Regions from separate parts of the Homo sapiens genome. Here region 2 is linked to region 1. The links come from fine-mapping of genetic effects on gene expression. A gene starts in region 1. The other region holds a variant in brackets. All regions are shown on one strand. Distances are between the middles of the regions.

The links.
Region 2: its variant is fine-mapped to the expression of BCAT1 in blood mononuclear cells (TOPMed, PIP 0.95).

What each region holds. Positions count from the first base shown.
Region 1 is chr12:24,946,163-24,951,549 of GRCh38, reverse strand. BCAT1 (branched chain amino acid transaminase 1) reads left to right here and starts at 2,449. Exons shown (of 11, transcript NM_005504.7): 1 at 2,449-2,623. The coding sequence starts at 2,618. It overlaps BCAT1-DT (BCAT1 divergent transcript), which reads right to left and starts at 2,387. Exons shown (of 3, transcript NR_199054.1): 1 at 2,220-2,387. RefSeq lists enhancers at 1,996-2,085, 2,206-2,555.
Region 2 is chr12:24,895,465-24,900,851 of GRCh38, reverse strand. The region is part of intron 2 of BCAT1 (branched chain amino acid transaminase 1); the gene reads left to right. Among named protein-coding and RNA genes, the nearest start is that of BCAT1, 51 kb to the left of the region's middle. The variant C/A (reference allele first, on the strand shown) is at 2,521.

The DNA of each region.
Region 1 (5,387 bases):
GCATGATCTTGGCTCACAGCAACCTCTCTGCCTCCCAGGTTCAAGCGATTCTTGTGACTCAGCCTTGTGAGTAGCTGGGATTACAGGCACCCCGCAACCACGCCCGGCTAATTTTTAGTAGAGACGGGGTTTCACCATGTTGGCCAGGCTGGTCTCGAACTCCCGACCTCAAGTGATCTGTCTGCCTCAGCCTCCCAAAGTGCTGAGATTACAGGTGTGAGCCACCATGCCGGGCCATAGAGTAACATCTTTATTGAGATATAATTCACATAACATACAATTCACCTATTTAAAGGGTATAATTCAGTGGTTTTTAGTGTGTTCACAGGGTTGTGTAACCATTACCACAATCTAATTTGAGAACATTTTAATCAATTCAAAAAGAAATCCAACGCCCATGAACATTCACTCTGCATTCCACCCTGTCCCCAGATTGAAAACAACTATGTGTTTTCTGTCTCTATGGATTTTCCTGTTCTGCACATTTCAGATAAGTGGAATCATATAATATGTAGTCATTTGTGAGACGCTTCTTTCACTTTGCATAGTTTTCAAGGTTCATCCATGTGACTGCATGTAATCAGTACTTCATTTCTTTTTATTGCAGAATATAATAATATTCCATTGTATGGATGATACCATGTTTTATTTAGCCATTCCTCAGTTGATAAACATTTTGCTACCTGATTTAAAGCTTACTTTCTGTTTCTCACACTAGTATATGAGCTTAATGAGGGTAAGAACATTTTTGTTGTTTCCCACTCAGTCCCTAGCATTTTGCACATTGCCTGTCTCATGTCAGTGTCAGGTTCAAATCTATCTAGCTGTGCTTTCACTGACGGGGGCCAGGAGGTTTCACAAGGACTCAATGGCTGATTAAATGCTTACAGATACAGATTTCTCAGGGCAGAACTTCTGCAAGCATTTTGGCTGTGGTCAGTTACTTTCAGGTTTTCATTACTTTTTGGTTTTCACAGCATCCGCAAGTGCCCATAGCCATTATCTCAGCTGCCTCTCTCTTTACTCTCTTGCCAATGGTGCCAGGCCACAGCAGGTGTTATCTTATCACCTCAGTCCACCATACATATGCTTATCAATTTGAGGGGTCAGCAATTTCACTGGAGGCTGAAACCCTTGTCATAAATGGCTCCATTTTGAGACATTTCAGATTACAAACCACTGTTATATACCAGCCTAGCATGTAGAAATCACTCAGTACATTTATTGAACACATAATTTAACCATTCATTCACCTGACCAACAGTCATTAAGCACTGACACATTTGTTTTCAACACTCCCTCTCTTCCACGGCAGGCCACTTGGTATGGGAGATAAATATGACAAAGGATCTGCCCTTACGAATCTCATAATCCACTGAAGTGACAACTGTGCAAACAAATAATTAAAGTAAAATTAAGAAGCTGGGCACAGTCTCACATCTGTAATCCCAGCAATTTGGGAGGCGGAGGCGAGGGGATTGCTGAGGCCAGGAGTTCAAGACCAGCTTGGCCAATTTAGTGAGACCCCATCTCCATTAAAAAATGATAAAATAAAATAATTGATTTTGAGAAAGGATGTGGACAAAGTGCAGCACATAGACCAAGGGCCCAGTTCTGTTTGAGGGCATTGGAAGCAACTTCCACAGCAAAGACTTGGGTTGAAATTTACAAAAATAGGAGTTTGCCAGCTTGACAGAGAGGCAGCGGAGGTCAACCAGCAGCACACTTAAGCAGTCATGGAGGCTGACCTAGGCGCTGGACATGGAAAAGTAGCAATCCTGGAGCTTTGTATAGATGTGGGGAGGGAACTTACAGGGGACCAACTAGGCTACTGGGCAATTTCACATTATAAAGAATTTTATATGCTCAAATTAAAGGATTAAAAATTTTCCCCCATGTACATAATAAATTGGCAAAAATGGTTATATTTGAGGGTGACTAAGGAACTCTGGGAAAGAGATCGGCAAACCAGGCACATGTTCTTGACTACTGCAAAAGTACATTTAAAGTAGCCGCGGGGGATACATGTATACTTTTGGGCAGGATTGTGCCGTGGTCCTCTCAGCATGCAGCAAAGTTACTTTGGGGACAGTAGGGAGGTGGGCAGGAGCCAGTGATGACGGAATGGCAATCACATTTGACCTCTGATCTGTTTATTTCCTCCTCCTTGACGTCTCCATATAAATGTTACACGGGCATCCCCACACTCGGATACGCACCCACAGTGGCTGATTCGGGGGTAACCGTGTCATTTGCTTGCAACACTGGCACCTCTGCCCTGCACCCCGGGAGTGAGCAGTGAGTGAGGCTCGGGTCTGGGCGCTGGCTCCGAATCTTCGGGCTGGGAGAGACTCCACCATCTGGGGGCGGCCTGGGGGAGCAGCCTTAGTGTCTTCCTGCTGATGCAATCCGCTAGGTCGCGAGTCTCCGCCGCGAGAGGGCCGGTCTGCAATCCAGCCCGCCACGTGTACTCGCCGCCGCCTCGGGCACTGCCCCAGGTCTTGCTGCAGCCGGGACCGCGCTCTGCAGCCGCAGACCCGGTCCACACGGCCAGGGGCTACGACCCTTGGGATCTGCCCTCCGCTCAGCTCGAGCTTCCCTCGTGGCCGACGGAACAATGAAGGTAACTACTTATGGTTTTGTCCGTGTTTTACAAAAATGTGTGCGTGAATCGAACCGGCGATTTCTCCAAGAAACATAGTTGGCAGGGAGGGGAGGAAGGCGAGACAACCATGGCTTATATCCCCCGCAAACGTCTCAGTATCTTCTTTATCAATCGTAGTTTGCGGGGACCGTGCATTCTGTTCAGATTTCGGTTTAACCTCCACTCGCAGGACGTGCCTTCTCGGACTTTTTCACATTCGCTTTTGGGAACGGAGGTGAAAGTCTGCTACAGCTCCCTCCCCTGCTTGTGAAGTTTGGAAAGGAAGTGAGGGCTTCTCTCAGTTTCTCCTATGCACAGGAGGTGGGGAATTTTGGAGAGGAGGTCTGGGGATGTCCCGGGCTGTAAATGCGCTTTCCTGCAGCGTGTGTTCGTGATGCAGGAGGGAGCGGCTGGAAGAGTTGACCCGGGTGGAGAGGGGAGGGAGAACGATCTTTTCACTGTTAAAAGCAGAAGGCCCCTCTTATTTTGTTTCTTGTGGAAATTAAAGCTTCTAGGAGTTACAAATGATAGACGCCTAAGGGCATTCATTTGTTAAACCAGTGAGCACCCTAATGGCTCTGATCTTGCTAATCAAGGATAATTAGCCTAGCTGCCTATTATTTCTGACTATTTAGGTGTAGGGATGTACACCGTTGAGTGTTTTGTTTTCCTAGTTTCACACACTGGAAAACTGCAATCGCATATAAAACCCGAAGAGCAACTTTTTCCAAGGAAAGTGAAGGATGGGCAGATATTCTTGCCATCTAACATTTTGGAATTGAGATGACCATAATGCAATCTGAACTTCTGGTAGGAATAAAGCCTCGTTTCAGAGTTTCTAAGGAGGGAGATGAAGCGTGGTTCTCAACTGCTCTTATCTACAACCCATCCCAGACCATAGTTTCACTTAGAAGAAATAATATGTAAATAGCGCCTTTGTTGCCAAACAAAAACTTTCACTACAATTAAACAGTAACCGAGTGGAAACTATGCGTTTTTGTATTCAACAGAGATCACACAACTTTTCTTCTATAGTTAGAGGTTCTATTTCTGGCTTCCTCATGCTTGTTTCATTTCAGATGAAAAACACACTTTAGTTGATTATAGCTTTAGTAAGTAAAAGGAGAAAACTAAGAATGAACAGTCTTGCTTTTCCAGCTTTTTCCTGTCCATGTGCAGTTGTGGTTAATTACGCGTTTTTGTAGGTCCAAAAACCCCTGTCCCTTCCACAAGATACTTTTATAACATGGGGAACTAGGTAAGATATCTACAAGTAGTCTCTTTTCTGTTTCCTGATATTTCCTAAGATTAAGAAAGAAATGATTGTATTCTAGGTATGATCGAAGAAGTATGGAAGGTTCCATTAAGTTAGTTTTATCACAATATTTCAAACATCTTTCCACTTATCTCTTAAATATGTATTGCTATCACAAGCTTGATTTTTTAAAAAAATGTTATTTGCACATGGCATCTTGATTGCCTTTGTCCTCAGCAAATTCTCCGGGCTTAAGTCATGCATGAGCTTGTATTTTAAGACAGACACATGCAGAATGGGCAACTTGGATAAGAAACATAGGATATACACTGAGTAGCATGTGTACAAAAATGGTAAGTGAGTATTATGACTTAATAAATTTAGATGGGGATTTAAAAATGATACACATGTAAATGGGATTGGAGGCAAGGGAAGTCCGTGTGTGTGTGTGTGTGTGTGTGTGTGTGTGTGTGTGTGTGTGTGGAGGGAAGACGGGAGGCCTAGTGGGGAGAGAGGTTTTACATTCCAGACACAGGATGTGGCCCCTCAGGCTAGGCTCAGAGATGTAAAGCTAGTTAAGCTGGCCTAACAAAAGGGTGGTGGTTAGAAAAAGGAAAAAAAGAGGTGGGGGTTGGGGAGGAAAAGAATTTAATGCTGGCCAATATTTTCATCTGATAAGTTTCAGTAATGAGTAATTTCACTGGATTTCAGAACTACAGAGAGAAAAGGGGAAAAATATTTTTCCTTTTTTACGCAAGAATTTCTCTTGCTTTTCAGCTCATTAGAACCAGATCTAATTATTTGAAATGAGTTTAAAACCTTATTATGAAAGGAAGTTGAAAACATTCGATCACAATTGAGTTTTGTACTATGGACTAAAACCAAGATGTGCTTTCTGTCAGTAGCTGTGCAACTCCCTGAAAAAAGAAAAATAGCGCAGAGCGATCTGAGCTTTGTGAAGGCTACACAATTTATCAGGCCCAGAGAGATAGGAGTGTGAGACTTCAGTCACGTCCCCCCGTACGCATGCGCAGGAGTAATTATTTAAAGACATTTTGTTCCTGACTAACTGCCTCACTCATTATGTTCCTGGAATTTGTGATACAAAAAAACAATGTTTAGCCTATCAATAGTTTATATAGTTTATGTTATTTTAATATAAATTCTTCTCAACTTAGAAACTGCCTCTTTTTTCTTTTAAAAACCCACTTGTAACTGCTGTATATATTCAGGGCAACTTGATTTGGTGTTTCGTTGGTTGCAGTCCTCAAATTTGACCTCAATATACTCTCTACTTATATAAATTTTGTCTCAGTTTTGTCCGTAGGCTGACATTCCAATTGTTTTCCTAATTATATATTTTGTTCCTTATTTCTCATGTCTAGAAATAAAGCTAGGGAAGTAAACAGCTGGAAAACTGATAGTGGTGTTATTAACCTAACTGAGAGGGCTGGGCTTATGAGTAAATTATTCCTGTGCATAAATGAA
Region 2 (5,387 bases), 51 kb after region 1:
TCAAGTGATTCTCCTGCCTCAGCCTCCTGAGTAGCTGAGATTACAGGCATGTGCCATCACGCCCAGCTAATTTTGTATTTTTAGTAGAGATGGGGTTATCACCATGTTAGCCAGGCTGGTCTCGAACTCCTGGCCTCATGCAATCCACCTCCCAAAGTGCTGGGATTGCAGGCGTGAGCCACCAAGCCTAGCCTGAAGAATTCTTTGCAAAGAAAAATATCAACTCAAATTTAAATAATCTTTTCCTTTCTTTTTCTTTTTTTTGAGACAGAGTCTTGTTCTGTTGCCCAGACTGAAGTGCAGTGGCACCATCAATTAGGTATCACTTTCAGCCTTGATCTCTCAGACTCAAGTGATCCTCTTAGCCTCTCAAGTACCTGAGACTATCGGCTTGCATGCCATCAGGCCCAACTAATTTCGTCATTTTTTGTAGAGATGGGATCTCCCTGTGTTGCCCAGACTGATCTCCAACTCCTGGGCTTGTGCAACCCTCCCACCTCGGCCTCCCAAAATGCTGGGTCACAGGCATAAGCCACAATGCCTGGCCATAAATAATCTTTTTTATTTGTTAATTTAGATTTCTGTATATTAGGTTTTATTTAGGGGAATTGCCTGTTTACACTCATGTATTTACACATCAAAACATGAGTTATGGTGGATGTATTCACAGCACATATGTAATAAGGCATGTGTAAAAATGATATTGATAATTTAGGGAATAAAAATGGTAGATTTTATAGACCATCTTTGTTTTTGATATACTTTTCTCTGTCTCAAAAAACAAAAACAAAAACAAACAAACAAACAAAATATATATATATAGCCTACATTGTTGTTAACTATAATCACCCTACTCTGCTATGAACAGTAGACTTTATCGCTTCTATCTAACTGTATGTTTGTACTCATTAACCAACCTCTCTTCCTCCACCTACACCCTTCCCACCCCCTGCCATCTTCTGATATCTATCATTCTATGAGTACTCTCTTCCTCCATGAGATCAACTTTTTTTTTTAGCTCTCACGTATGAGTGAGAACATGCAATATTTGTTTTTCTGGGTTTTTTTTTTTTTCTGTGTTTGGCTTATTTCGCTTACCATAATGACTTCCAGTTCCATCCATGTTGCTACAAATGACACGATTTTACTCTTTTTTAATGGCTGAGTAGTATTCCATTGTGTATATGCACCACATTTTATTTGTTCATTGATGGACACTTAGGTGATTCCATGTCTTGACTATTGTGAATAGTGCTGTAATAAACATGGGACTGCAGATATCCCTTTGATATACTGATTTCCTTTCCTTTGGAAAATACCCAGTAGTAGGATTGTTGGTTTATATGGTCATTCTACTTTTAGTTTTTTTTTTGGAAAGCTTCATACCATTTTCCACAGTAGATAAACTAATTTACATTCTTACCAACAGTGTATAAGCGTTCTCTTTTCTCTGTATCCTCATCAGCATCTGTTATTTTTTGTCTTTCTAATAATAACCATTCTAACTGTGGTTGCTTTTGACATATTTCTCTACCTTTTTGTTAATCTACATCATTTATAACATTTCATATGGCCTTTTGGGTCTCTCTTGGGTAGTTTTCGTATTTCTTCTCCCCTCCCCATTTATGATGCAGTCATATTACATGAGGATGCAGTTTTGCAGCAGGGCCTAGCAATGAGATACGTTGTTACACATCCTGGCGAATCTTTCTGTGGACTCTAGGATCCTCTTCATTTGCAAGAGGTCAGCCATCTATTTCTTCCAATTCCTCCAGCTTCACATATCTCCACAGAATGCAACACTGCAAATCTGCAGTTCTCTTCATGATCCTCTTTATTAGATTTTAAAAGAGTATCTCCAAAAGATGAACATAGTGCCTAAGGCTTTCCAAATGGAGTAAGAATAATGCACAAGAACCTAGAATAAAGTTATTAAATGTCTGATACAGTTGTAATACAGACTTGATTTTTGAAAAATGTGGCCAATGAAGAGAAGAGCAAATGTGCTATACGATGGTGAGCAAAAGGTGTTGACAGGCCTGGCATGGTGACTCACCCCTGTAATCCCAGCACTTTGGGAGGCTGAGGTGGGTGGATCATTTGAGGTCAGGAGTTTGAGACTAGCCTGGCCAACATGGTGAAACCCTGTTTGTATTAAAAATACAAAAATTAGCCAGGTGCGATGACACATGCCTGTAATCCCAGCTACCTGGGAGGCTGAGGCTTGAGACTTGCTTGAACCGGGGAGGCGGAGGTTGCAGCGAGCCGAGATTGTGCCACTGCACTCCAGCCTGGGCAACAGAGCAAAAAAAAAAAAAAAAAAAAAAAAAAGTGTTGACTGAACCCTGGCTGAAACAGTTTTCAGGTGCTTTCAACAAATTTACACTTCCCTGCCCTGAGCCTCCCTATTTCAGAACAAATGATTACCCAACTGCAAACTTTGAATTAGGAAGTTGTTTTTAATATGCCCTGTTTTTCTCAATATTTCTTGCCATTTCACAATCAGTTATTGTGGCATTC[C/A]AATTCTTCCACAAACATATGATGTGAAACATCCTGACTTCGATGTCATCAGGGAATGTGGAGCATTGGAAAGAGACAGATTAATTATGCAGAAGAAAGTATCATTTGACAAAATATTATTTTTATTTATCTTTGGAAAGGAAATCTAGAAAAAGAAAATACTTTTTAAAGAACACTGATAAAAATTGTTTATAAAATTTGTTTCCTTTAGGAAACAAATCGTTCCCTTAAAACTACATTTCATATCTGCCCCAAACGAGTCACATGTCTTCAGCTAATATTGCTTGTTTACGTTTGAACTTTATTCAATTCTATCACCTAGTAATTTAGTATTCTTAGGTAATTTCTCTTTGAGCTCAGGTTAAAAGTTGTTATTTTTAGTTTTCAGAGTTGCAGAATTTTTTTTTCAAGTAGAGAAAAGTTCATGATGAGATTCTGAAGCCACCTAATCGTATATTACTTTGAAAAACTGGATATATGCCGGGCGCGGTAGCTCACACCTGTAATCCCAGCACTTTCAGAGGCCGAGGTGGGTGGGTCACCTGAGGTCAGGAGTTCGAGACCAGCCTGGTCAACATGGTGAAACCCCATCTCTACCAAAAATACAAAACTTAGCCGGGTGTTGTGGCACATGCCTGTAGTCCCAGCTACTCAGGAGGCTGAAGCAGGAGAATCACTTGAACCTGGGAGGCGGAGGTTGCAGTGAGCCCAGATCACATCACTGCTCTTCCGCCTGGGTGACAGAGTGAGACTCCATCTAAAAGAAAAAGCAAAACAAAACAAAACTGGATACAGGGCAGTGCTTAGGTACAAATCAGAAAGTTAGAGGTTGCTATTCATATCATTAAGAAATAATGTGTCTTACGAAAGAATGTAGCAGTTTACTGAAATAGAAGTCATACCTAGAAATGTAATAATTTATCTTTAATTGTCAGAAATTTAACTGATATTATGAAGTTCTAATTATAAGAACACTTATTTGAGGTTAAAAATTACCTTATTCTATCCCTGCTTTGCCGCTAATTTGATCTCTCTGGATTAGTGGGTTATTGTGGGTCCTATGGGTATTTTAAGGAGAGGTCTCAGAAAACTAAAAATTATATATACTGGATCATAATCATTCTTGTCACCCACTCTCATCTTTCTGTTTTTGTTTTGTGTTTTACTACCCTTCCCCTTTTACTAAGTAGTCTTAGTAGAAGAAAATTTGCATTAAGTTTGTCGTACTGTATTGATATGGCTCCAAATGTTTCTTAGCCCAGGGTCCTCCCCATTCACTGATAAAAGCTAACTAAGGTAAATCACAGGTGTTTATTGTGCAAGAATACTGTGAAACTATTCATGTAATAAAAAGTTTGTGTTAGAATTTCACTCTCTTTAAATCCTGGACATCTTCTGTGAGTGTATCTGAAAGCAGCCAGACATCTTCAGTATTTAAGAAACCCTTTACTATTCTGTGTGCTAGGCACTGTGTTAGCTTTGGAATTCAACTGTGAATACTCTAGCCAGACTTCTTGTCTAAATAGTCCAGAATAGGGGTTGCTAAACTTTCTTTCTTTTTTTTTGAGATGGAGTTCCACTCTTATTGCCCAGGCTGGAGTGCACTGGTGTGTCTCTGCTGACTGCAACCTCTGCCTCCCAGGTTCAAGCAGTTCTCCTGCCTCAGCCTCCCAAGTAGCTGGGATTACAGGCGCCCACCACTACACTCAGTTAATTTTTGTATTTTTAGTAGAGACAGGGTTGTGCTGTTTGCCAGGTTGATCTCAAACTCCTGACCTTTGGTGATCCACCCGCCTCGGCCTCCCAAAGTGTTGGGATTCAGGGTGTGCCACTGTGCCCGGCCTGCTAAACTTTCTTAAATGGCTAGATGATAAATATTTTAGGCTTGAGGGCCATCAGGTTTCTGTTACAACTAGTTGGCTGTGCTGCCACTGAAGATACAAGAATGGCGTGACTATGTTCCAATAACATTTTAATTTCAAAACAGGCCAGCTGGCTGCATTTGGTCTGCAAGTAAAGTCTGCCTGACCCCCTACCTAGTCCAGAGGACAACGGGAGAGAAAAGGGATTCAAAGATAAAAATAATTTAGCTGGAATATATTTCTTTAAATAAACTTATTATACTTAGTAAAAAGTCTTAAATTAACGTTTTTACTTGAATTAAATAGTGGTAAAACAGGCTGGGCACAGTGGCTCATGCCTGTAATCTTAGAACTTTGGGAGGTCGAGGCAGGCAGATTGCTTAAGCCCAGGAGTTCGAGACCAGCCTGGGCAACATAGTGAGTCCCTATCTCTAAAAAAAATACAAAATAATAATAATAATGGTAGAACAAAGTCAATTTTTTATTGAAACTTGGCATTTTATTGGCATATTACAAAGTAGCATTACTAGACTAGCCTGAACATTACAGTAATATTCTGTCCTTAATGCCTTTTGTGTCACTGTAATATGAGCTTTCTGTTTGTTTTGGAATATGTTTTCAGCCTGAATATTATTCTAAAAATACAATTTACTATCATTCATAATATATCAAATGACTCACGTAGCTGCAAGGCAGTGAATTAAACAGAATTAGATCATTTTAAAAATAATGATAAGAGCTGATGATGTAAAGTGAAGGTCTGTATTTAATTTGGGAGGGAAAAGACTTTTTTTGTATATTCAAAGAGATGGAGTTTGACATCCCTTCACAACCTGTTACAGGTTGAACTTGCCCCTGTTTTTTTAACTGATCAAAAAGTTCCTTCTCTTGTGTTTCTTTTTTTCTTCTCTTTTCTCTTCTTTTCTTTTCTTTTTTTTTTTTCTGAGACAGAGTCTTGCTCTGTCTCCCAGGCTGGAGTGCAGTGGTGCGATCTTGACTCTCTGC